3 separate regions of the Homo sapiens genome follow, and regions 2 and 3 are each linked to region 1. The links come from fine-mapping of genetic effects on gene expression. A gene starts in region 1. Each other region holds a variant in brackets. All regions are shown on one strand. Distances are between the middles of the regions.

The links.
Region 2: its variant is fine-mapped to the expression of CPNE2 in tibial nerve (GTEx, PIP 0.97).
Region 3: its variant is fine-mapped to the expression of CPNE2 in whole blood (TOPMed, PIP above 0.99).

What each region holds. Positions count from the first base shown.
Region 1 is chr16:57,089,247-57,097,246 of GRCh38, forward strand. CPNE2 (copine 2) reads left to right here and starts at 3,337. Exons shown (of 16, transcript NM_152727.6): 1 at 3,337-3,544. RefSeq lists silencers at 2,859-2,928, 2,949-3,198, 3,309-3,358, 3,419-3,828.
Region 2 is chr16:57,127,615-57,135,614 of GRCh38, forward strand. It overlaps CPNE2 (copine 2), which reads left to right. Exons shown (of 16, transcript NM_152727.6): 12 at 235-289; 13 at 7,161-7,212. Among named protein-coding and RNA genes, the nearest start is that of CPNE2, 39 kb to the left of the region's middle. RefSeq lists an enhancer at 7,619-7,668. The variant G/A (reference allele first, on the strand shown) is at 3,860.
Region 3 is chr16:57,021,379-57,029,378 of GRCh38, forward strand. NLRC5 (NLR family CARD domain containing 5) reads left to right here. Exons shown (of 49, transcript NM_001384950.1): 4 at 878-937; 5 at 2,407-2,475; 6 at 3,990-5,640; 7 at 6,694-6,777; 8 at 6,924-7,007. Among named protein-coding and RNA genes, the nearest start is that of NLRC5, 36 kb to the left of the region's middle. RefSeq lists an enhancer at 5,073-5,591. The variant A/G (reference allele first, on the strand shown) is at 3,292.

The DNA.
Region 1 (8,000 bases):
CTCAGGTAGGTGTTCCAGCTGACAATTCCAGCTGAGGTTCCAGATGACAGCCAGCGTCCAGTGATAGCCATATGTTCAAGAAAGCCTTCTAGACAATTTCAGCCACCACCATGATCTGACTGCAACTGTATGGGAAACACTGTGCAACACCTGCCCTCGATGAGCCCTGAGGACCCCGGAAGTGTGAGGGATAAGTTTTGGGGTGATCTGCGATGCAACATAAATAACTGGAACACCCTCCCTCCGCCAGTCCTCACACACTCCTGGCCCAGCCAGATCCCTGAACAGCTGGCGCTCCTTCAATGTGTCTTTCATTCACGAGCACACTGACATGCATGGGCAAACCTGGGTATTCTGATCCGTTTGTCCAAACAGCCTGGACTGTGAAAATAAACACCCAGATGGCAGGTGTTGACACACATACCCTGACATGGGTCTATTTCGGGGCCTTCAGGCCTCCCACTGTGCACTGAGAGGTCTCCACCTGGGCAGGGAAAGACTTCGTTTAACATTTTGCAGTCTTGTGTTGGGTGTGGAATGAGGATAAAGCATGTAGAATCAACCTGTGATGGATCCTTGGCCTTAATCAACTTCTTCAGGGCTCTCCTGATCCCTGGCCTTTTTTTTAAAGATAGCTTTATGGGGATATAATCCATACACCATGACATTTGTCCTTTTAAAGTGTGTAAGTCAGTGGTTTTAAGAATACCTACAGTTGTGCAATCATCACTATAATCTAACTTTTTTTTTTTTTCATACAGGGTCTTGTTCTGTCACCCCGGCCGGAGTGCAGTGGTGTGATCATGGCTCACCACAGCCTCAACCTCCTAAGCAATCCTCCCACCTCAGCCTCCTAACTGGGACTACAGGCAGGTACCACACCCGGCTAATTTTTTTTTTTTTTTTGGTAGAGATGGTGGGGTCTCACTATGTTGCTCAGGCTGGTCTTGAACTCCTTGCCTCAAGTAATCTGTCTGCCTCGGCCTCCCAAAGTGCTGGGATTACAGGCAGGACCGCACTCTGCCTAGAATCTAACTTTAGAACATTTTTTATCATCTCCCAAAGAAACCCTTTGCCAATAGCAATCACTCCCCATTCTCCACTCCCCGGCCGAGGCAACCACAAATCTGCTTTGTCTGTTTGTGGATTTGTCTATTCTGGACATTTCATCTAAATGGAGCCATGTAATATTTGTCTGAGACTGGCTTCTTTCACTGGGCATAATATTTTCCAAGTTTGTCCATACTGTAGCATGTATCAGTACTTCCCACCTTTCTTTTTTTCCTTTCTTTTTTTTTTTGGAGGGGGGATGGAATCTCCCTCTGTCACCCAGGCTGGAGTACAGTGGCGCAATCTTGGCTGCAACTTCCGCCTCTTGGGCTCAAGTGATTCTCCTTCCTGCCTTCCGAATTGCTGGGATTACAGGTTCTTGCCACTACGCCTGGCTAATTGTTATATTTTTAGTAGAGACAGAGTTTTGCCATGTTGGCCAAGCTGGTCTTGAATTCCCGACCTCAAGTAATCGCCCGCCTTGGCCTCCCAAAGTGCTGGGATTACAGGTGTGAGCCACCACAACTGGCCAGTAATTCGTACCTTTCTATGGCTGTATAATATTCTATGTTGTGTGGATATACCACATTTTGTTTTTCCATTCATCAGTGGATGAACATTTGCGTGGTTTCCACTTTTTGGCTATTATGAATAATGCTGCTACGTACATTTGTGTATGTTTTGTGTGGCCATATGTTTTCATTTCTCCCGGGTAGATATCTAGGAGTGGAATTGCTGTGACCCCTGGCCTTTGTACTCTGCCTCCTTGGCTAGGGATCTAGTATCTTCCTTGACAGGCCCAACTATCTCATCCTTCAGGTTTCTTAAAGGAAGCCTCGCTGACTCCCATGGCTGAGTTGGGTCTTCTGTGCCACCCTACCTCCAATCTTTGCACATTTCATATGGTGATATGATGGCCTGGGTCCTGATCTTGGCCCCCACAGGTGAGCAACTTGAGAGAGACTATCTGCTTTGGTTCACCACTGTCCATCCCAGTGCCTGGCTCTCCTGCTGCTGGAAAGACAAGAGACAGATTCTGAGGCCAGAGCAATCAGGAAAGTCTTCCTGGAGGAAGCGGGGCTGGAGTTGGGTTGATAGGTTGGTTTGCCCCAGAGCGGGGCAGAGGGCTTTGATTGGCTTCGGTGGAAGAAAGGTGAAGAGAGCTTGGAGAAAGGAAAGATGGATGGGTGACAGGCAGGCAGAGAACAAAGCTCAGAGCCCCGGGGGCTGTTTAGTCTCGGCCCCTGTAAGGCTGCAAAGTGCCAGTGACTCAGACGTGGAGGGAGGCTCACAGGCTGCAGCGCGCGAGGCTCCCACATTAACCCTCACCTGCCTGGAATCGAAAAGCCACAATGGAAGCACTCGGCATTAACCCTCAGCTGCCCAGTCCTTGAGCCCCAGGGCCAAGGGCTGTGGACATGGCCTTGAGATCCCCGGGAAAGCCCCGCCCCCCAGAATCTGGTTACGTGAGGCTCAGCCTTCTGATGCCCGGTGGTGAACTTGCCCAGAGAGCACCTAAATACCGCGGAGTGGCCAAAGGCTTGAGCGCCCAGCGACAGACAAGTGTCCTAAGAATTGGTGCCTCTTCTAGGGAAAAGGAGGCCTGGGCTCCAAGGCCTTAAAGACTCGCCTAATTTTCCGCACGGATGAGTAGACCCAGGCCCAGTTCGGATCCGTCTTTATCTTATCGTCTGTGTCAGAGAAATATGTCATATTTCCAATCTCTGGCGGCAAGAAAATGCCGAGCTCTTTTGCTATTGAAAAAAAAAAGGGAAGAAAACACTGCGGCCCTAATCCTGCCCAATACAACCCAGAACCCAGCCTTGGGTGTTGCCCCGAGGGCGCAGCGCCGCTCCCATCGGCGCTGGGGGTCCAAGCGGCCCTGGGGCCCCGCAGGCCCGGGCTGAGGCCACCCCTCTGTTCCCGCGTCGGTGGCCCTGAGCGCACGGCGCTCGGAACTCGGAGGTGCCAGAGGCTCGGGCAAAGCAGGCCTGGGGAGGGCGCGAAGCCGCGTTGTTCCGATCCTCAGCCACCTGAGTCCCAGCCTGGAACCTTCGGACCCTCGCGTTCGGCCCGAACGTTCGGGCCCCCTCGGTGCCAGGCGCCCCGAGTGCCGCGGCGCGCCGGGCGCGGGCTGGGAGCGGCGGACTGCGGGCGGGACAGCGCCCCCGCTCCTCCCGTGGGAGAGCGCGCGCCCCTCCAGGAAGCTCCCGCCTCGCCTCCCACTTCCCTCCCCACTCCCCTCCTCGGCCGGAGGGAGGAGCCCGAGCCGCCGCCGCCGCCGCCGCCCGCCCGCCCGGCCCGGGAGGAGGACCGGACCCCGAGCGGCTGGGAGCGCACGCGAGCGGGCCGTGGCCGCGCGGGCAGCGCCCTGAGCCTGTCCCGCGCCCGCGGGCCCGGCCGAGCAGGAGCAGCTCCCGGGGATGCCCGGGCGGCTCGGAGCGCGGGCAGCGGCAGCCGTGCGGTGAGGGCGGTGGCGCCCGCGGGACCTGCGGTGAGTGGGGCCCGGGCAGGCGGGGCAGCTTGGCGTGAGTGCCCAACTTCGGCCTTGGGGCTGGGCTCTTTGATCCAGCTGCGGGTCCGAAGGAACCCGGGTTCCGCCTCGGGGGGCTGCGGCGCTCTAGCCCCCGCCGCCAGCGCGAACCCGGACTCCGGCGCTTCGGTGACTCAGCTCCGACCCGGCCACGCGGGGGCGCCCCGCCGGCTCCCGGACTGCGGGGAAGGGCGGGCGGGGTCCCTGGGGAGGGGGGCGCCCTCGGGGGTCCGAGCCCAGCTGCTTTGGGGACCCTTCCACCCGCCCCGAGGGGCTTGGAGGGCGTACGGGAGGTGGAGACCCGCCGCTGCCGCAGCTGCTGAAGGCGTGAGGTCGCCCTGGCTCTCGGCGGGCGCTGGCTCCTCTCCGCTCCCCTCTGCCCTCCTCCCACCCCTCAACACCCACCCCCTGCCCCAGGCAACTGCCGGAGGGCCGGCTCCCAGCCCCGGTACTGGGAGCGCAGAGGGGGAGTGGAGCTGGGCAGCTTCCCAGAAGTCGGAGTGTGTTTGCAAACTAGTTTTTGCGAAAAAGCTGTCTGGCACCTGTGTGTTTAAAGGGGGTGTGGGGGTGGGCATGGAGAGAGCGGGCGAACAAGGCCCTCTCTTATTCCCCGTTTCTCACAGCGATGCTCCTCTGAAAATAGAGGGGTCTTACACCCTCTTCCCTGCTCTTCCCACCCCATCCCCCAGCCTCGCTCCACGTCCCCCCGAGTTCAAGAAGCTCTCCTATGGGGAAGGGGCTGCTTCAAAGGGGGCTGTGATTTGCCCAAGGTCACAGATGCTGCTGGCTCTGGTAGCTAATAGGGTGTTCATCTTGCATCTGAATCCCCTGCCCCATATGTACTGGGGGAAGGGACAAGGGGTCTGGAAGAATGATCTTCCAGACAAAACGCCCTTTTTTTTGTCTGCCTTAGTTTTTTGCTCCCTTAGAGGTGTGTGCTGTCATCAAAGGTTGGGGGGCTTTTTCTGCCCCTTGGGCATCCACAGCTTCACGGACTGCAGGGAGCCCATGGTTTTCAGGAAACAGGCGGTGTGCGCAGATTGTAATCCCTGGCAGCTGCAGCCTGCCCTGATGGGGAGGCCTGGGAGACCTGGGTCTGAACCCCACCTATGACCAACAGGGAACTTGGCCCAGACCCTCCCCCCCTGTGGCCCTCTGGGTCACCATCTGTGAAATGGGCTGATGTTCCGGGGCCTGCCTCCTGGAGAATGGACACAGCATGAAGGCGTGGTTTTATGGCATTCCGCCTGGCATAGGTCCAGGTGAGCTCCAGGACCGCCCCAGCCAGCTGGATTGGAAGGGGTCACCCAGGCAGGTTTCTCCATGGAAAGAACCAGGGACGAAGGATGTGGACGCTTGGGTTCGTTTTGCGGCCGTCACTTCCTGTCTGCGTGCCTTGTCACCCCTTGGACTTGGGGGGTTTTCTGTCTGTAAAATGAGGCAAACTGTGACATGATCCAGCTTACAGTAGGGCGGCTGGGAGGCTGGAACTGGGGAACAGGGAGCAGACGTTCTGCAAGTAGGGAGCACTTCATGAGTGGCAAGTGTGGTGTCTCTGGTGGTGTTCCAACGGACACTCCCTCTGGAATGTCATGAGAATTAAAAACTGGGGCATAAGGGAAGAAGATGGCTGAGAATGGAGCCTCGGTTTCTATGTCTGTAAAACAGTAAGTACTGGACCCCATCTGGTCCTCCTCCCAGTCCTCAGTTTTTATATCTATACACCTTCATATTCTTTTCAGGTAATTGTGTATTTCTGCAAAGGTAGGATTAAATTAGATTGCAAGGACTCGGGTGCCAGCACTTATTGGTACGTGGTGAGTGCCTGGTTAACTGTCATTGTCATTATCCATGGGAATATTAAGAAGCCTGATGTGGGTGACTGCATCCAGGATCCTTTGTGGGGTTGTCTCAGGCCAGCTTGCTCCTCCCCCTCCCGTCAGGACTTCTGGGCTGTTCTAGGGGCAGGGGCCTGGGGTGAAAGAAGACCAGGAGAAGTGGTAGGTCTCATCCAGGTGTCCCCATTTCCCCACATCTGGCTGGCCTCACAGGGCTCTAAGGAGTGAACAGAAAACAAAAGAGCACTCTCTAGTAATTTTCTCCCTCCTGTCAGAGCAGGAGGCATCATCGCCAGGCACGGTCCCGATCTGAGAAGCCCTCAGCTCAGGGTCAGGGTGCCCCCAGCCTGATGGAGGTCTCTGTCCCTCTCCCCTCCCCTGAACCTTATTCATAGATGGCACTGGGGCTACCGAATCAGGAGCAAAACACCTTGAGGACCCAGCTCCTTCCCCCTTGCAGAATATGGCCTCAGGGAGTGGAGGTGGGATCTCCCCCAACCCTGCCAGACACGGTGGTGTGGGCTCTGTGGGAGCTGGGATGCCAGGTCACCCTGTGATCTTGGCAGGCAGCATCTAGAAAAGTCCACAATCACACATCTCCCCACCTCCCTGTCCAGAAGGGAGGACATAGGGGTCCCACAGTGCCTGAGGACAGAGCCCAGGTTAGAGGCGCCTCCTGGCTCACATCCCAATGTCTTCTGCCCTCATTGGGCCACTGGACCTCGGCTGTCACTCCCATGGCAGAGTCAAGAAGACTGCTGTTCCATACCCTGGAATATTTCTTTCTTTCTTCCTTTTTTTATTTTTTATTTATTTATTTTTTGAGACAGGATCTTGCTCTGTCACACAGGCCGGAGTGCACTGGTGTGATCTCAGCTCACTGCAACCTCCACCTCCCAGGTTCAGGCGATTCTTGTGCCTTAGCCTCCCAAGTAACTGGGATCACAGGTGCACACCTAGCTAATTTTTGTATTTCTAGTAGAGACGGGGTTTTGCTATGTTGGTTAGGCTGGCCTTGAACTCCTGGCCTCAGGTGATCCACCCACCTCGGTCTCCCAAAGTGCTGGGATTATAGGCATGAGCCACTGTGCCCGACCATGGAACATTTCTTACTTATCTGGCCACACTTGCTCTGAGGTCTGCAATGAGACTGACTAGTGAGATTGTGTCACCATCCCTCCTCACTGCTGCATCTCCTGGTTGTATTTTTCTTGGGGCATTTGCCACTCTTTAAAACCATCTTCTTTACTCATTGGTGCACCAGCTTATCTGCCTCCCTCCCCAAAGGGTGTCAGATCCACAAAAAGGCAAGAGCAAACAGTGTCTGTCTTGTTTAGGGCCATGTCCCAGCACTTAGAACAGTGCCTGGCACATTGTAGGTGCTCAGTAAATCCTTGTGTGAGGAATGACTGCACCTGCCCCTCTTTGCAGCCTCCTGTTAAATGAGTCTGTGATGTTGAGTGATGGATCCTGGGAGAATTACGAGCTTGCCCTCTTGAGTCTCTGGAGGGATCTCTGGCTTACCATACTGAGTGCTGGAAGGAGCATGGCCTTGCTGACAGCTGGATTTCAAACTTGTAGCCTACAGAACTGTGAGAGAATCTAAGCCATCCAGTGTGTGGTGCTCAACTAGCCCATGGCCAACCAGAGTTTGAAACCCAGTAGCTCAGCTCCCAGCATTCACTGCACTCTTACAATACACTTTTCTCAGGTTGGGCATGTCTCTGAAAGACTGATGGGAGAGCCGGGCGTGGTGGCTCACACCTGTAATCCCAGTACTGAGGGAGGCCAAGATAGTCAGACCACTTGAGCCCAGGAGTTCAAGACCAGCCTGGGCAACATGGCAAAAACCCGTCTTTACCAAAATAAAAAATAAACAAAATTAGCTGGGTGTTGTGGTGCATGCCTGTAGTCCCAACTACTTGGGAGACTGAGGTGGGAGGATTGCTTGAGCCCAGGAGGTCGAGGCTGCAGTGAGCCATGATTGTGCCACTGTACTCCAACCTCGGTGAAACAGTGAGACCATGTCTCAAAAAAAAAAAAAAAAAAAGACTTGGGGTCCAACCAAAGGAAAGAGGGATTGCAGGAGTTGTCTGCTGGGAGTTGGGCATATTCCCTCCTGTGTTTTAGAGAGGGGACAGCCAGGGCACATCAGGCAGGCCAGATATCCTCAGCTCCTGATAAGACACAAAAGCCTGCAGGGATACAGTAGAGTTGTAGGGAGAATGGGCTTCTGAACCACACTAGGCATGTCCACACCACAGGGCCTTTACACATGCTGGGGAACAGGTAGAGGAAACAGCGCATGCAAAGGCCCTGTGGTGGGGACATGCCTAGCTTGGTTCAGGAGCCCATTCATTCATTCATTCAAAAATATTCACTGAGTACCTGCTGGGCACCAGCTATGGCTGGGATACAGCCATGAACGAGAGAGACCAATGCCTTGCTCTCCTGGGGCTCCTGGTCTATTAACATCCCAGCTCAAATGTGGCCTCCTCCACACTGCCCTATCACAATCACTTCACCCTGCTTTATTCTCTTTATGACATTTTCCACTCTCTGAGATTTCCTGCCCTTGT
Region 2 (8,000 bases), 38 kb after region 1:
TACCATTGTCGTGTCTGCCACAGGTATAGATGTGGTCAGGCCACATGTTCACCAGGTCCCCAGAGGTGGGTTGGGCTCATTAGGTAGATGATCCTAACAGCTTTTTCTAGAGGTGGTGAGCTCCTCCTTTCTGTCCTTGGAAGTGTATGAGGCAGAGTGGGCCCAGCCCTGGGCAGAGGGTCGGGTGGTGTCCTCAGGTGTCTTACAGTGTGTTTCTCTTCTCTCTCTGATTAGTGATAAGATGTTTCCAGCTCTGGGATTCGGGGCCCAGTTACCCCCAGACTGGAAGGTGAGTGAAACCGGAGTTAGTTTCCTTTTGGTTGAGATGGGGTTTGTGTGTGTGGCCTCTCGGGGATCAGCTCTGGAAAGGTCTTGGGCTGGGGCCCTGTTGCCCTGCCTTCCCTGTGTTCACCCCAGGCCACGCTCATTTCTCAAGCCTGATCCTTGGGCAGGCACTGAGGCTGTAACGGGGCAGCACGTTATGTTCTCTGTTTATGAGACCCATGTGGAGTGGGGGAGACAGATAGGATTGCCAGATGTCGCAAATCAAAATACAAGACACCCAGTTAAGTTTGAATTTCAGGTAAACAATGTTTATTTTTATGTGTTTATTTTTATTTATTTATTTATTTAGAGACAGAGTCTTGCTCTGTTGCCCAGGCTGGAGTGCAGTGGCACAATCTCCACTTACAGCAACCTCCGCCTCCCAGGTTCAAACAATTCTCCTGCCTCAGCCTCCCGAGTAGCTGGGATTACAGGTGCCCACCACCACCCCGCAGCTAACTTTTGTATTTTTAGTAGAGAGTTTTACCATGTTGACCAGGCTGGTCTCAAACTCCTGACCTCAGGTGATCCACCGGCCTCAGCCTCCCGAAGTGCTAGGATTACAGGCCTGAGCCACTGTGACCAGTGCAGATAAACAATTTTTAAAGTATAAGTATGTCCTGAATATTTCATGGGACATACTTATACTTAAATCATCCATTGTTTATCTGAAATTCAAGGTTTTGTATGGATCTAGGGGTACAAGTATAGTTGTATTACGAGGACGTATTGTGTGAAATATGGACTTTTAGTGTATTCATCACCTAAATAATGTACATTGTACCCAGTAGGTGGCATTTCATCCGTCACCCCTCCATCCTCTCGCTGTGTGGAGTCCTCAGTGTCTGTTATTCCCCTCTGTGTGTCTGTTCTGTGTGCACCCATTGTTTAGCTCCGTCTTATAAGGGAGAACATGCAGTTTTTTGTTTTCTGTTTCTGAGTCATAGTGGGCATCCTGTATTCTATATGGCAACACTAAAGACAGGTAGTGTCATCGGTGCTGAGGTGGGGGCACCGTAGGCCTGTGGGGAGCCGAGGAGGTAACCCAACCCAGCTTGGGGCCATCAGGCTTCCTGGAGGGGGCAAGCTCTAAGCCAAGAGGGGAAAGGGAAGTAGCAGAGTGACTAGAGGTGGCAGTGGGGCAGGGGGAGCCTTCAGGGCAGAGAACAGACTGTGCGAAGCCTGCAGGACGAGCTGGAGGAACTGGCAGAGGTGGGTGATAGACCCTCCATTGGAGGTGAGCAGGGTGGAGACAGATGTGGGCGTTAAAGGGCCACGGGGACCCCTGCAGGGACCACATAGGGGCTCATCAGCAGATTGGCATTTCTAAAGGCCTCTCCTGGCTGCTGAGTGGGGCGTGGCTAGGGCGAGAGTGGGCAGAGTGGAGGGTGGAGAGAAGGGGCGAAGGCAAGGAAACTCAGGGCAGAGGCCAGGACTTTCTGTGTGACCAAGTGAGTGTGGGCCGAAGAGGTCACCAAGATTTCCAACTGGGCACTGAGGCGGGGGTGGTGCTGCTTACTGAGATGAGGAACGGGGTGGGTGCTAGGCTCAGCAGGGGAGATGGTAAGGTGGGAGTCCCAGGAGAAAGGTGGATGATGGCTGGGCACAGTGGCTCACGCCTATAATCCCAGCACTTTGGGACGCTGAGGCAGATGGATCATTTGAGGTCAGAGAGTTTGAGATCTTCCTGGCCAGCATGGCAAAACCCCGTCTCTACTAAAAATACAAAAATTAGCCCAGCGTGGTGGCACATGCCTGTAATCCCAGCTACTTGGGAGGCTGAAGCAGGAGAATCACTTGAACTCGGGAGGCAGTGGTTGCAGTGAGCCGAGATCGTGCCACTGCACTCCAGCCTGGGCAACAGAGTGAGACCCTGTTACAAAAAAAAAGATAAGTGGTTGATGGGTCAATGGGTTTGGGCTCTGGGGAGACAGAGAGAGACCTGGCCACCTGGGCCAGGACCCATGGTGCCACCTCTGGGAGGATGAGATTGCTAGGGAGACAGGTGGAGTGAGAAACAGCCACATGAGGCGGGGTGCAGTGGCTCACACCTGTAATTTCATGCTTTGGGAGGCCAAGGCAGGAGGATTGCTTGAGCCAGGAGTTCAAGACCAGTCTGGGCAACACAGTGAGACCCTGGCTTTACAAAATTTAAAAGTTGGCTGGGTGCAGTGGCTCACACTTATAATCTTAGCACTTTGGGAGGCTGAGGAGGGTGGATCACAAGGTGAGGAGTTCGAGACCAGCCTGGCCAACATGGTGAAACCCCGTCTCTACTAAAAATACAAAAATTAGCTAGGTGTGGTGGCGGGAGTCTGTAATCCCAGCTACTCGGGAGGCTGAGGCAGGAAGATCCCTGGAGCCCAGTGAGCTATGAGTGCACTGCACTCCAGCCTGGGTGACAGAGTGAGACTCTGTCTCTAAAAAATTAATTAATTAATTAATTAAAATAAAAAAAGAGACAGCTGCATGAGAGAGCCAGGCAGATGAAGCGGAGACTGAGCCCGGGGGCAGAGCAGGGAGGAAGTGAAGGAGGGAGGGGCAGAAAGCAAACCCATAAGTAGCAGCATTTATTGGGCCCTTAGAATGTTCTAGATACCACTCTGCCTGCTTTACCAGTTTCAACTAATTCTCACCAAAGCCAATGAGGTAGGCCCTGTTATGAACCCATTTTGATCGTTGAGGAAGCCAAGCAGTCAGGGCTCGGGGAGGAGGGAGTGGGGTTGGAGGCTGCCCCTGGGCCTGGTGAGGTAAGGCTGAGAAGAGACCATCCGTTTCACTGACCATGGCTGGGGCCATTATGGCAGAGACAAGATGGGGAGGGGAGAAGGGCATGGAGACATCAGCCAGTGTGGCAGTCAGCCAGCGTGGAAGTCAACTGGCTGTGAGGGAGGGGAAGGGTTAGGTCAAGCAGGTCTAAAGGCTGAGGAGGAGCCAGGAGAGGCGTGGAGGTGAATTGAAGCGGGGGTCCCTGAGGTGTGGTTGTGGGTAGTCCTGGGGCAGGAGGCGGGGGCTCCTCATAGAACCACGGGCACCAGGGGAGGGGTGGTTTGGTGGCTCAGAGATGGAGACGTCAATGAGGGCAGAAGCTGTGATGCTGGGGAGTCGCTGCAGATGGGCAGGGAATGCTGTCCCATTTTACAGGGCAATAAACTGAGGCTTGGAGCCTCAAAATGACTTGCCCAAGGCCATGTTCACCAACTGGGCAGTTGGACTCTAAAGTTTCTTCTCAGACACTGTTGCCTCCCCATGAGAAGCCTGTGGGGTGTGAGGCCAGAGAGCTCCTAAGCCTGCACATGGGTCTCGCTCGGCCAGTGCCCCTTCTTGTCTGCCCTGCTGTGCCGCATTGCTGTTTCCAGAGTGAATTTTTGCCTCCTGTCCTCTCTGGTCCTCTCTGGGGAGGATGATTTTCACCTAGAATTTCGGGGAGTGGCCCAAGGGCCAGGGCAGGAGATGTGGGTGTCCTGGCTCCCTGTGGTGTGAGGCTACGCCTCAGATGGGACCAAAGCTGGGCCACAGTGATGCCATTCGGGGG[G/A]CAGGGCGAGCTGGTGCGGCTGGGCCCAGCACGAGCCCGTTGCTAGGACACCAGCCAGCTTTCAAAGAACTGAATGAGATGTTTTCTTGAGCAAAAGCCTCCTTGTAAATGTCACAGGGCGATGCTGGGGAGGCCAGGGCTTGGCCAGGCTGGAGTGCCCGGCGGTGCCAAGAAAGATGCTGCGTCCAGGCTAGGAAAGGACAGATGCTGTGTCCCACCTCCCCCTGCCATGGGAGCCGCCAGGCCTGGCCCCTCCTGGCCCCTCACCCTCTCTCGCATTCTGACTCGCCTCACTCCTGCTGCCTGAAGCTCCTTCATTCACTCCCACCTCAGGGCCTTTGCACATGGCCTTCACTCAGCCCGCTGCTCCCTCTCCTGGGCTTCTGCCACCGATTTTCACCTAGAATTTCGGGGAGTGGCCTGCCCTCTGGGAGCCATGCTCACACTCACATGGGGGCCCTTCTTCCTGCCCAGAGCCCTGCCCTCATGGAACTCTGTGACTTGTTTGTGATTGCCTGGGGAAGGCACTGGGTTTCTTTCTGCCTGCATCCCAGCACCTGGCCTGCAGTGTGCAGTGCCATTGTTTGTTGACGGAATGAATTTGGGACCCAGCCCAAATTTGGGACCCCAGGCCTGAGCAAACAGAGGGGTCGGTTCTCTGAGGGTGGGAAGCTAGAAGGAACCAGAAGGAGCACGTGACCAGGCTGCCTGCCTTTGAGACCTCAGTTTCTCCCTGAGGGTGGCCCAGATGATCCCAGAGAGAACTCCTGCCCCAGAGAGTGGCTGAGGGTCTCAGGACGCGTTTCCCTTTGGAGATGGCATGAGGTCTTGGCCCTTCAACGTGAGCAGAGTTACTCAGATGAGGAACGGGATCTGGGCAGAAGGCACAGTCTGTGCAAAGGTCTGGGAGGAGGGGGAGCATACTCTGCAGGTGGGGAAACTGAGGCTCAGAGAGGACAGTCACTCTGAGATCCCTTGGGCTTTCTCCATGCCCCACCCGCTGCCTCTACCACCTGCCTCAGCCAGGGCCACAGGGAACTGAGCCTGAAGTAACTCCCTGACCTCAAGGCTGAGCCAGGCCAGGTTGGGTGAACAGGGCCATTGGCTGTCAGAAGGCAATAGGGAGTCCCAGGACAAAGGCCTGTGGCTGGCAGCCAGTCCCCAGGGGCCCCTCATCAGCTTCTGTGGCCTCCAGGAACTTGTTCTGTTTATGACTTTTCTCAGGCAAACCAGGGCAACCAGTATGGGAGGGGCTGAGCTGCCACTCCTGGTAGCATGGACACTTGTCCCCAGGCCCCACTGTGTGACCTGGGCACTCCCTGGCCCTCTGGGAACCTCACTCTTTCCAGCTATGAAATGGAGTTGCTGGAGGAGACAACCTCTGGGGCCTCTGGGGCAGATGGACAACCTTCCACAGCCCCCCTGACCGCAAGGCTGGGCCCTCCCCAAATAAAGAGGGGGGAAGAGTGGGGATGAAGAGCGGGGGGCCCGAGAAGGCAAAATATTCCTCCACCCCTATCAGCAGGGGGCTTTCCCACTGTGGTCTCTAAAATCTCCTAAAATCTGATTTTTCAGGAAGACTTTGGCCCAAGGGAGTCCTGTTTCCCTGGCAACCATTTTCTCTCTCAGCCCCTCCATACAAGCCCCCCTCGTAATCTCTATAGAGGCTCAGGAAGTCTCCATGGCAACAGGGACCTCCAGCCCCCAAACCTGGAGCCCAGACTGGGGACAGGGTGAAGTGGGCCCTGGACAGGGACAGGACCCAAGAGGGACACCAGGGGACTGGCTCTGTGCCGGGCGCCTAAAGCAGACAGCAAAGAACAGAAAACCCCATTGCCTGAAACGGGGAGGAGTCCTCCCACCACCTCCCCTCCCCTGGGCTGCCAGGGAGGCCAGACTGAACCCCACTGCTGGGTCCCTGCCCTCTCCCCCAGGAGTAAGACCAACTCCCACCCCCAGGGGAGGGGAGGGCACTGGGTCTCAGGCCTGTTCGACTGTGTGGCTCTGGTGCCTGGCTTCCCTTTTCTGGGCCTCGGTTTGTTTATTTGTAAAATGGGGACGCTGGATGCAGGAGAGCCTCCCAGTACCCCCATCGTCATGTCTTGGAGCTGAAGAGTCTGTCTGGGATTGTCTGTGCCCAGACAAAAGCCCTCCTCCTGCAGCTGAGGACCGGGGCACCCCTCCACCCTCCTCATTGAAAATCCCTGGGGGAGGAATGCCTTTGGAGGTTAGCGTGAGCTCTGGGAGCAGCCTGACCTCAGTTCGAGTCCCAGCTCTGCCCGCCAGGAAATGTGGGAAAATTCTAGTCCACTCTGTGTCTCAGTTTTGTCATCCATAAGATGAGGTGATAACAGCTGCCCTTCCATTGGGGTGTTGTGAGGAAGGAGTAAGGGGATTCCTGCACAGCAGTGAATGCGGATGTGGTACATGGTAGGAAGGGGGCTGAGGGGGATTTGGGGCTGTGGGGCTGCAAGAGAGGGAAGAAAGGAGGGACTGTCCCCCATCTGAGCTCTGCAGCGTCTCCCGAGGCCTTGGGTTCTGCAGGCACTGCAGTCTCACCCACAGCCCTGAACGGGGCCAGTTATGAGTCCTTCTATACCCCGAAGCCATGCGAGCAGCAGCAGCCGGATGTGATGGGTGCAGCAGTGTCCCGGAGTGTCCGGGTCAGTCTCTGATGATCCTCTGGGGCTGGGTGCTGGGCCTGGAGGCAGAGAAGCAGGATGAGTCCCTAGGGAGCCTATGATAGCCCCATCTGATCCCCTTGCAGCCCCCTTACACTCCCTGATCGCCAGGTCAGCTCTGAGTGGGCTGTCAGCTCACCCCCGTTTGGCTGTCTGGCGCAAGGCAGGCTCCCCTCTAAGCCCCTTTGCTTACTGTTAAGGTAGGAAAAGCCTCTGAAGCCCAGAGAAGCGGTGCTCTAGTTGTGGAGCCCACATCCAGCTGTAGCAGTGATGAGGGAGCATCCTGGAACCCTGGCCCACAGGGAAATCCCTGTCCCACCCGGGACTCTTAGAGGACTGATGGGGCATAGGCAGCCCCAGTCCCCAGAAGAGCCCAGGGTGACCTGCCAGGGTCTCAGTTTCCTCCACTATGAGGAGAGGGTGGTTGGGCCTCTCTGTGGGTCACACCCAGCAGTGGAGGTGAAAAGCAGATGTGGGGGGTATCAGTGGCCTAGAGGAGGGTAGGGGTGGGGGTTATGAGCCGGTGCTCTCAAAGGGAGCCTTGGCCTGGCAGTGGGTGGTGGCCTGGGTCTGGGTTTGGGGGCGGGAGGCTGCAGCTCAGCGTTTTCTCTGCGTTTCAGGTCTCCCATGAGTTTGCCATCAACTTCAACCCCACCAACCCCTTCTGCTCAGGTGAGTGTCAGACCCACCTGCAGCTGCCCTGTGTTTGCTACGGGCCTGGCCAGCTCCCTGGGTGGAGGGAGGGCAGAGGACAGGTTTTCATTTCTTTCTCCTTTCCCCTCCCCCTTACTGTTGCTCAGAGTGACAGAGGGGGAAGAGCTGCAGTTTGGAGTCAGATAGTCCTGGATTCAAGGCCAGCTGCTGCCCTTCCTAGCTGTGGGACCTTGGAAAGGTCACTGTACCTCCTGGGCCTTTGCCTCCTTACCTGCTCCAGGATAACTATGACAGCTGCTCTTCTCACTTTACTGGGTGGTTCAGTGAGAATTACAGGAAGCCACTGACAGGAAGTCCTGTGTAAACCAGGAGGAGGTGAGGGTGGCACCAGACACACCTGCTTTCACCTCCTTCCCACCCGCCCCCTTGCTGGGAAGGCCAGCCCTGCTCTGGGAGTACTTGGCGGGGGATCAGGGGGAGGCAGGGGCTGGGAAGTGAGTATGGTGTCTGTGTTCATCCCCACCCCTGGGCCTAAGAGGATTTCTGAGCCTCCTAGGGACAGTTAAGAAACTATTAGAGGCCGGATGCTGTGGCTCATGCCTGTAATCCCAGCACTTTGGGAAGCTGAGGCAAGAGGAGCACTTGAGCCTAGGAGTTCAAGACCAGCCTGGGCAATAGAGGGAGACCCCATTTCTACAAATTAAAAAAATTACCCAGGCATGGTGGCATATGCCTGTGGTCCCAGCTACTCAGGAAGCTGAGGTGGGAGGAAAGAAAGAGAGATGGGGAGGGGAAGGGAGGGTCAC
Region 3 (8,000 bases), 68 kb before region 1:
GACAAGGTCTTGCTCTGTTGCCTAGGCTGGAGTGCAGTGGCACAATCATAGCTCACTACAGCATCCAACTCCAGGACTCAGGTGATCCTTCCCACTTCAGCCTCCCAAGTAGCTGAGACTACAGTAGAACTATAGGTGCATGCCACCACATTAGGCTAATTTTTCATTCTTTTGTAGAGACAGGACATCACTGTGTTGCCCAGGCTGGTCTTGAACTCCTGGCCTTAAGTGATCCTCCTCCCTTGGCCTCCCAAAGTGCTGGGATTATAGATGTGAGCCATCACACCTGGCTAGAGGTGTTTTTGTTTGTTTGTTTGTTTTGCAACATGGTCAGAAACAGTGACGGGGAGCGCCTTCTGCCCTCTACTGATCCGTGGGGATTTCTTGGGCACCTTCTGTTTGCACAGCACTGAGGGGAAACACAGGACATTGAGGGGCAACAGCGTTTTTGGAGAGAAAATGGGAACTCACTTAAGAACCCTACTTCAAGGCAGAGTGTGGGAATTGCGGGGGGCGGGGCGGCGCATGCACATATGTGCAGACATATGCAGATACACACAGTGCATATACATGTGGGTATGTGCGTAAACCCATGTACACATGCATGCAAGTGTGCCCACATGCATAACACATGCATGCCTGTGCACACACATACATAAACTTGCATGCACTTGCATATACACACATTTCTGCCCAGCACTGCCTTCAAAGCTCACCACCACATTTTCTCCACAACAGATAACTGAGTGTTCCATTTAGTTCTCCCTTGCTGGGTATCTCCCTGTGAGATGAGCCCTGAGCCAGGCGCCAGGCCAGAGCTGGTCCCCAGCATCCCTCGACAGCCCCATACCACATTATACTCTCCCCTCTCTTGCAGGGTTCACCAGCCAGCTGGGAGCTGAGGGGAAAAGCCAACCTGAATCTCAGCTCCACCATGGTGAGGACTGGAGTTGGGGGGTGGGAAGGGGGTGGTGAGCACTGTGAAGTCCCCACTTCCAAGCTGGAGGAGGCTGTGGAGGCTGTGGTGGCTGGTCACAGCCATTTCTCATAGGCCATGCTCTTCGTCTGTCCCTGACCCATTTGCAAGTGTGTCAAGCCCCTAACTGTGTCTCCCAGCCCCACCTCCTCCTGCAGTGACTTTCAAGGCTTTAGCTTGTCCCGTTACCAATTCTAAAGGGTCTAACCTGGAACCCCTCAGGAAGCCTGTTCTCACTTTCCTGCCCGCAACCCGCAGGGCCTCATCTCCCAGCCCCAAAGTGTCAGGCTTCATGGGGAAGCCCTAACCACCCCCTCCCGACTTGTACACCTTGGACTTGACACTCACCCACAGCTGCTGTCTTCAGCGGGGGAGCCTTTGGCTGATTTTCTGAAGGAGCTCGGAAGGGCCAGTGATTAAATAATGACCACCTACTGATTCGTGGGTCACACTTTCATCTCAGCACCTTGATTTCTACAGAAGCATTGACTTTACTTATCGCTGTGCATGGCAGTAATGCCAACAGAAAACCCACCCTATAACCTCAGCTCCCCAGTGAATCAAAACTGTCCAAGTCCCTGGTCCAATAGGCCCGCATCACTGAGCTGGCATCATTATCTCATGGCTGTAACCAGATCTGATTGATATTTGGCCAGTGAGTCCCTTTTTAATATAGGATTTGTTAAGATATTGAAGTGCTCTCGAACTGGTTCCAGCCTCCTAGCTGGACAAGGAGCCCAGGGCCCTGCTCCAGGGGCTGTTCCTATTGGTCACTTAGCTTAGCTGTAGGAGGACCCTGCTTGACTTCTTAAAATTCTTTCCTGAGTCCTCTTTCCTTTCTCCCTCCCTTCCTTTCTGGGTCCCCTTCCTTCTTGTTTTCCTTCTTCCTTTCTCAAACTCTTCCAGAAAGGCATTAAAGTGATTGTTGAAAATCCATACAATGAGACAAGACTCCAGAAACTATTAAGGGAAGTGAGGAAATGTGGGTGATAAGAAATCGGGATGATAAAACCCTAACAGAGGAGGGAGGTTGCAGGCCTGGCCAAACTCACTGGGAACTTCACTTATATGACCACCGGCGGCTTCCATAGAGCTTGGTCCTTCCCTGATGGACAGATGGCCATTTAGTGCTTGGAGCTGAGTGTTTCTGGGGGCTGCTGGCTGTTGGCCCTGCTTCCTGCATCCTGGACTGCAAGACTGCCAGGCCCAGAACATCCACCTTCCAATGGGGGTGCCTAGAAGTCCACTCTGCAAATAGAAGCTGGTGTTGACCCAGCCTCTGCCTGCTGCCTGCCTTTCCAGTCCCTGCATGTGGGTGTACTTGGCTGCCTGCCACCTGTCTGTGGACTGGAGTTCCCCAAAGGTTCTGGGTAACCCCTCAGCCCAGATCCCCAGACCCCACTCCTCCACCCCTTCCTTTGCTTTTTCAGGCCTGAAGCGCCCACATCAGAGCTGTGGGTCCTCACCCCGCCGGAAGCAGTGCAAGAAGCAGCAGCTAGGTGGGTACCAGTGTGGGGAGGAACATAAACAGAGAGATGGGGTTGCCTGGGGGCCAAGACCCGGACCCTGGACCTTGTCCCCTGCCAATAAGCCTCCAGAGGCCCAGTGACTCTTGTCTCGCAAGTTTCCAGGAGAAAAGGACTGGAGGTCTTGCACAGGCAGAGGAGAGGCCTGGGCTGGCAGCGAAGGGGCTCCCCACCCATCTGGCTGCATGGGGACTTCTCTGAAGAGGGCTCCGCTGAAGGAGCTGGAAGCACCATACAGGTCTCAGCTTCGCTGTCCAGGCTTTTCCAGGGACACCCTATGTCCTCAGTGTTGAAGGAGACCCAGGGAGGAGACCAGTTTGGGGGTGAGCAGGGATGGGGAGGGGTGAGGAGGCCTGGGAGAAACCTTCAAGACAGAGGCCCTGGGGGCCCATGGGGAGACATGGAGCTGCTTAGGGCAGGCCAGGCCAGTGAGAGAAGAAAGGGGACTTCTCTCATTCTTGACCAGTTCTCAGAATGGTCCTCGTTCTCCACGAGTTGTCCCACTAACTAGAGCCTTCTCTGCCCCCACTGCTGCCAACCATGGCTATAACCAGAGGATTCACATCCGCTCAAAATAGTTCACTACCTTGGCCTTTCCCCATAGGGTTCCCCCAAAAGCAGCCCCAGCCCTTTCCCTGGGTCACCTGAGACCTCTCAATGACCCAGGAATTAAAAGGTTAACATCTGGCACTGTAGGGGCCCAGCTCCCACAGTTCCGATCGGTAATGCCTAGGCCTACAGGTTGTTAGTGCTCACCCCTGGGCATTGCAGAACTGAAATATTGGGAAG[A/G]GGCACTGGGGATCCAGATATTACAGAAAGAGGTTGTTTCAATAAGATATTGCAAAGTAGCTGGGCGCGGTGGCTCACACCTGTAATCCCAGCACTTTGGAGGGCTGAGGCAGGTGGATCAGTTGAGCCCAGGAATTCAATACTAGCCTGGCCAACGTGACAAAACCTTGTCTCTACTAAAAATACAAAAATTAGCTGGGTGTGGTGGTGTGCACCTGTAGTCCCAGCTACTCAGGAGGCTGAGGCAGGAGGATCACTTGAGACCAGGAGTTTGCGGCTACAGTAAGCTAGGATCGTGCCACTGCACTGGAGCCTGGGCAAGACTGAGACTCTGTCTCTGGGAAAAAAGAAAAAAAAGAGATGTTGCAAAGGAGGTGCCCTATTCCCCTCCCCCCATCTTACTGAACCCTTACACCACGTGTACTATTGCAGAATGGATAGAACCGTGACCCACACTTCCCCATTCCCACCTGCCTGTTTAAATAGCTACCGGAGAGCCTATGCTCCCTTAGAACTGATTCCTTCTGGAAGTTGGGGTGGCACAGATCCCCCTATGGTGCTCTTGACACCCCCACCCTCACCCCATCATACATACACATCTGGGGCTACAGGCTCCCAACAGCCCAATACTGGGGCAAGAAGACATGAGCAGAGGGCCGGGGGGTCCTCTCCTCATGCCATGTCCCTGCCCCTTGCAGAGTTGGCCAAGAAGTACCTGCAGCTCCTGCGGACCTCTGCCCAGCAGCGCTACAGGAGCCAAATCCCTGGGTCAGGGCAGCCCCACGCCTTCCACCAGGTCTATGTCCCTCCAATCCTGCGCCGGGCCACAGCATCCTTAGACACTCCGGAGGGGGCCATTATGGGGGACGTCAAGGTGGAAGATGGTGCTGACGTGAGCATCTCGGACCTCTTCAACACCAGGGTTAACAAGGGCCCGAGGGTGACCGTGCTTTTGGGGAAGGCTGGCATGGGCAAGACCACGCTGGCCCACCGGCTCTGCCAGAAGTGGGCAGAGGGCCATCTGAACTGTTTCCAGGCCCTGTTCCTTTTTGAATTCCGCCAGCTCAACTTGATCACGAGGTTCCTGACACCGTCCGAGCTCCTTTTTGATCTGTACCTGAGCCCTGAATCGGACCACGACACTGTCTTCCAGTACCTGGAGAAGAACGCTGACCAAGTCCTGCTGATCTTTGATGGGCTAGATGAGGCCCTCCAGCCTATGGGTCCTGATGGCCCAGGCCCAGTCCTCACCCTTTTCTCCCATCTCTGCAATGGGACCCTCCTGCCTGGCTGCCGGGTGATGGCTACCTCCCGTCCAGGGAAGCTGCCTGCCTGCCTGCCTGCAGAGGCAGCCATGGTCCACATGTTGGGCTTTGATGGGCCACGGGTGGAAGAATATGTGAATCACTTCTTCAGCGCCCAGCCATCGCGGGAGGGGGCCCTGGTGGAGTTACAGACAAATGGACGTCTCCGAAGCCTGTGTGCGGTGCCCGCACTGTGCCAAGTCGCCTGTCTCTGCCTCCACCATCTGCTTCCTGACCACGCCCCAGGCCAGTCTGTGGCCCTCCTGCCCAACATGACTCAGCTCTATATGCAGATGGTGCTCGCCCTCAGCCCCCCTGGGCACTTGCCCACCTCGTCCCTACTGGACCTGGGGGAGGTGGCCCTGAGGGGCCTGGAGACAGGGAAGGTTATCTTCTATGCAAAAGATATTGCTCCACCCTTGATAGCTTTTGGGGCCACTCACAGCCTGCTGACTTCCTTCTGCGTCTGCACAGGCCCTGGGCACCAGCAGACAGGCTATGCTTTCACCCACCTCAGCCTGCAGGAGTTTCTTGCTGCCCTGCACCTGATGGCCAGCCCCAAGGTGAACAAAGACACACTTACCCAGTATGTTACCCTCCATTCCCGCTGGGTACAGCGGACCAAAGCTAGACTGGGCCTCTCAGACCACCTCCCCACCTTCCTGGCGGGCCTGGCATCCTGCACCTGCCGCCCCTTCCTTAGCCACCTGGCGCAGGGCAATGAGGACTGTGTGGGTGCCAAGCAGGCTGCTGTAGTGCAGGTGTTGAAGAAGTTGGCCACCCGCAAGCTCACAGGGCCAAAGGTTGTAGAGCTGTGTCACTGTGTGGATGAGACACAGGAGCCTGAGCTGGCCAGTCTCACCGCACAAAGCCTCCCCTATCAACTGCCCTTCCACAATTTCCCACTGACCTGCACCGACCTGGCCACCCTGACCAACATCCTAGAGCACAGGGAGGCCCCCATCCACCTGGATTTTGATGGCTGTCCCCTGGAGCCCCACTGCCCTGAGGCTCTGGTAGGCTGTGGGCAGATAGAGAATCTCAGGTGAGTAAGAGTGGAGGAGGACCGGGGAGGGGATTGGGCTTTTGGGGGAGCAGAGGCCAACCAGTCTAGCAAACCTCTGCCAAGAGGACTGGATAAGAATCTTGAATATCAGAACATAATGGCCTGCAATGCAAGAGAGGAAGCTCCATACCTTGACAGGACCTCTGGAGTCCAAATGGATCCTCCTCTTGTCTGTGGTTTCTGGACTCTCAGTCTCTCTGTCAATCATGGGCTGAAACCACAGATCCAGGCTGTCTATAGAGGCTGGTGGACTTTGGGCAAGTATATGGAGCACACACATGCACACTGTCTAGGCCAGAGTTTCTTCGTTCCTAAAACGAATCTGTAACAATAGCCAACTCATATGGTCATTGCAAGAATGAGATGGGATGGTGCATGAAAAACATTTTGTAGCACAGTGCCTAGCACAGAGCAAAGGCTCAGTGTGCATATTAGCTAGAGAAAAGGCTAGGCTGCAGTAACAGAGAAACCTCCTCCCCAAATACAGTAGGTTAAATAATGTAGAATTTTATTTCTCTCTCATGGAAGAGTCAGAGGTAGGTGGTCCAGGTCAGTGGAATGGCTCAGCTCCACGCAGTCATGCAGGTACCCAGGTCCCTCCCATTTTGCTCCATTATCCCCTTGGGAATCCTATCTGCACAGTCAAAGCTACGTCATGGGTATATCTGTGCTCTGGCTTGGGAACAAGGAAAGAGCATGGAGGAACATGTCAATGCATTAAAGTTCAGTCCTGAAACTAGGATACATCCCTTCCACTCACATTCCATTGGTGAGAACATAGTCACCTGGCCACACTGAGCTGCAAGGGAGGCTGGGAAATGTGATCTCTGGCTGGGAAACCATGTTCCTCATGATAGCTCTATTGCTGTAGATGAAGTGGAGAATGGGCTTTGGTGGACGATTAGAAGTCTCGGCCATAATATGTATTTGTTAGTACTACTGTATTAAGCCCCATCTCTCTGAGGGGATGGCGATGACTTCTCAGCTCTGCCCAGCACTGATCCTCTGACACTTCGCTTCTTCTTATGGCAGCTTTAAGAGCAGGAAGTGTGGGGATGCCTTTGCAGAAGCCCTCTCCAGGAGCTTGCCGACAATGGGGAGGCTGCAGATGCTGGGGTGAGCCAGGCCTTGGAGCTGAGAAGGGTCTTCAGCTGGGGATGCCTGGTACTCTCCTCCCTCTCCTTAATCCTACACAAGGCAGATTCCTGGCCCCGCCCTTTTCCCCTCCTCGTTCCTCCCCACCATCTTTGCTTACTCTGTAGGTTAGCAGGAAGTAAAATCACTGCCCGAGGCATCAGCCACCTGGTGAAAGCTTTGCCTCTCTGTCCACAGCTGAAAGAAGTCAGGTGAGTGATCTCCAGGAGGGCTCACTGACTGGGGAGATGAGCCACTGCCCAGGTCCCAGAGTCCCCCTGGGGCCTGCATGTTCCTCCAAGTCTGACCAGTAGTTTTTCAGTGAGACCCAGAGAGGGAAGGCATCAGTCCAAGTACTCAGTAGGGCTGAGTCCAAACCCAAGGCTCCCAGAGTCCCCAGAGCAAGGCTTCCTTCATCTAATATTTTAGACTGTCTTGGAGGAGCATGAGTGTTAAGGCTCCCTCCCTCTTTCTGAAATCCCAGGAGAAGGGATAGCAGTGCGTAGGCAGGAATCAGGCACTGTGGGTACACATAACTACATGAAGCACCACACACCTTCACATTTGTTCACACATGTCTACACTTGCACAGAAGTACACAGGCATATGCAAGAATATGCACCCACACATGCCCACTCATAGGTGTGCACATGTATGCAGCGCACACATGCACCTTTAACTACATGTACACATTTTGATGCCAGCACACTCTAACTAACTAAGCTTGTATGCACAAATATACTCCTGCCCTGTGTCTGGGACTCAGTACCATGGGGAGGAGTGGGACCAGTGACCCTCCTCCCTGGCAGAACGCTGCTAGTTTATATGGCACCTTTATGACATTTAGAGAAGGCACCACTTCATCCACACAGATGCAGCCTGTCACTAAGGTTCAGCACTTGTTGAGTGAAAATAATAAGTTGGACCACAGTCCCTATTGTCGTCTCGGCTGGGCATCTGTGAACCGTGATTAAGCCAAGGTTCAGAAGTACTGAACTTGTTGACATTTTTCTTCCCTGGCTATTGAAAGTGACTTTAATTTTGTCTTTCATCACCCACCATTGTTCTTAATCACCCTCACTCCCCTCAACTCATCTGTCTCCCCAGCTAGGAACCCAGGCAAGGCTGGCTTGTGAACAGGTGGGGAAAGTGAGGTCAGAGAGGAATGCGCTTGGCTCAGGGCTCTGGGTGAGTCAGGGCCACAG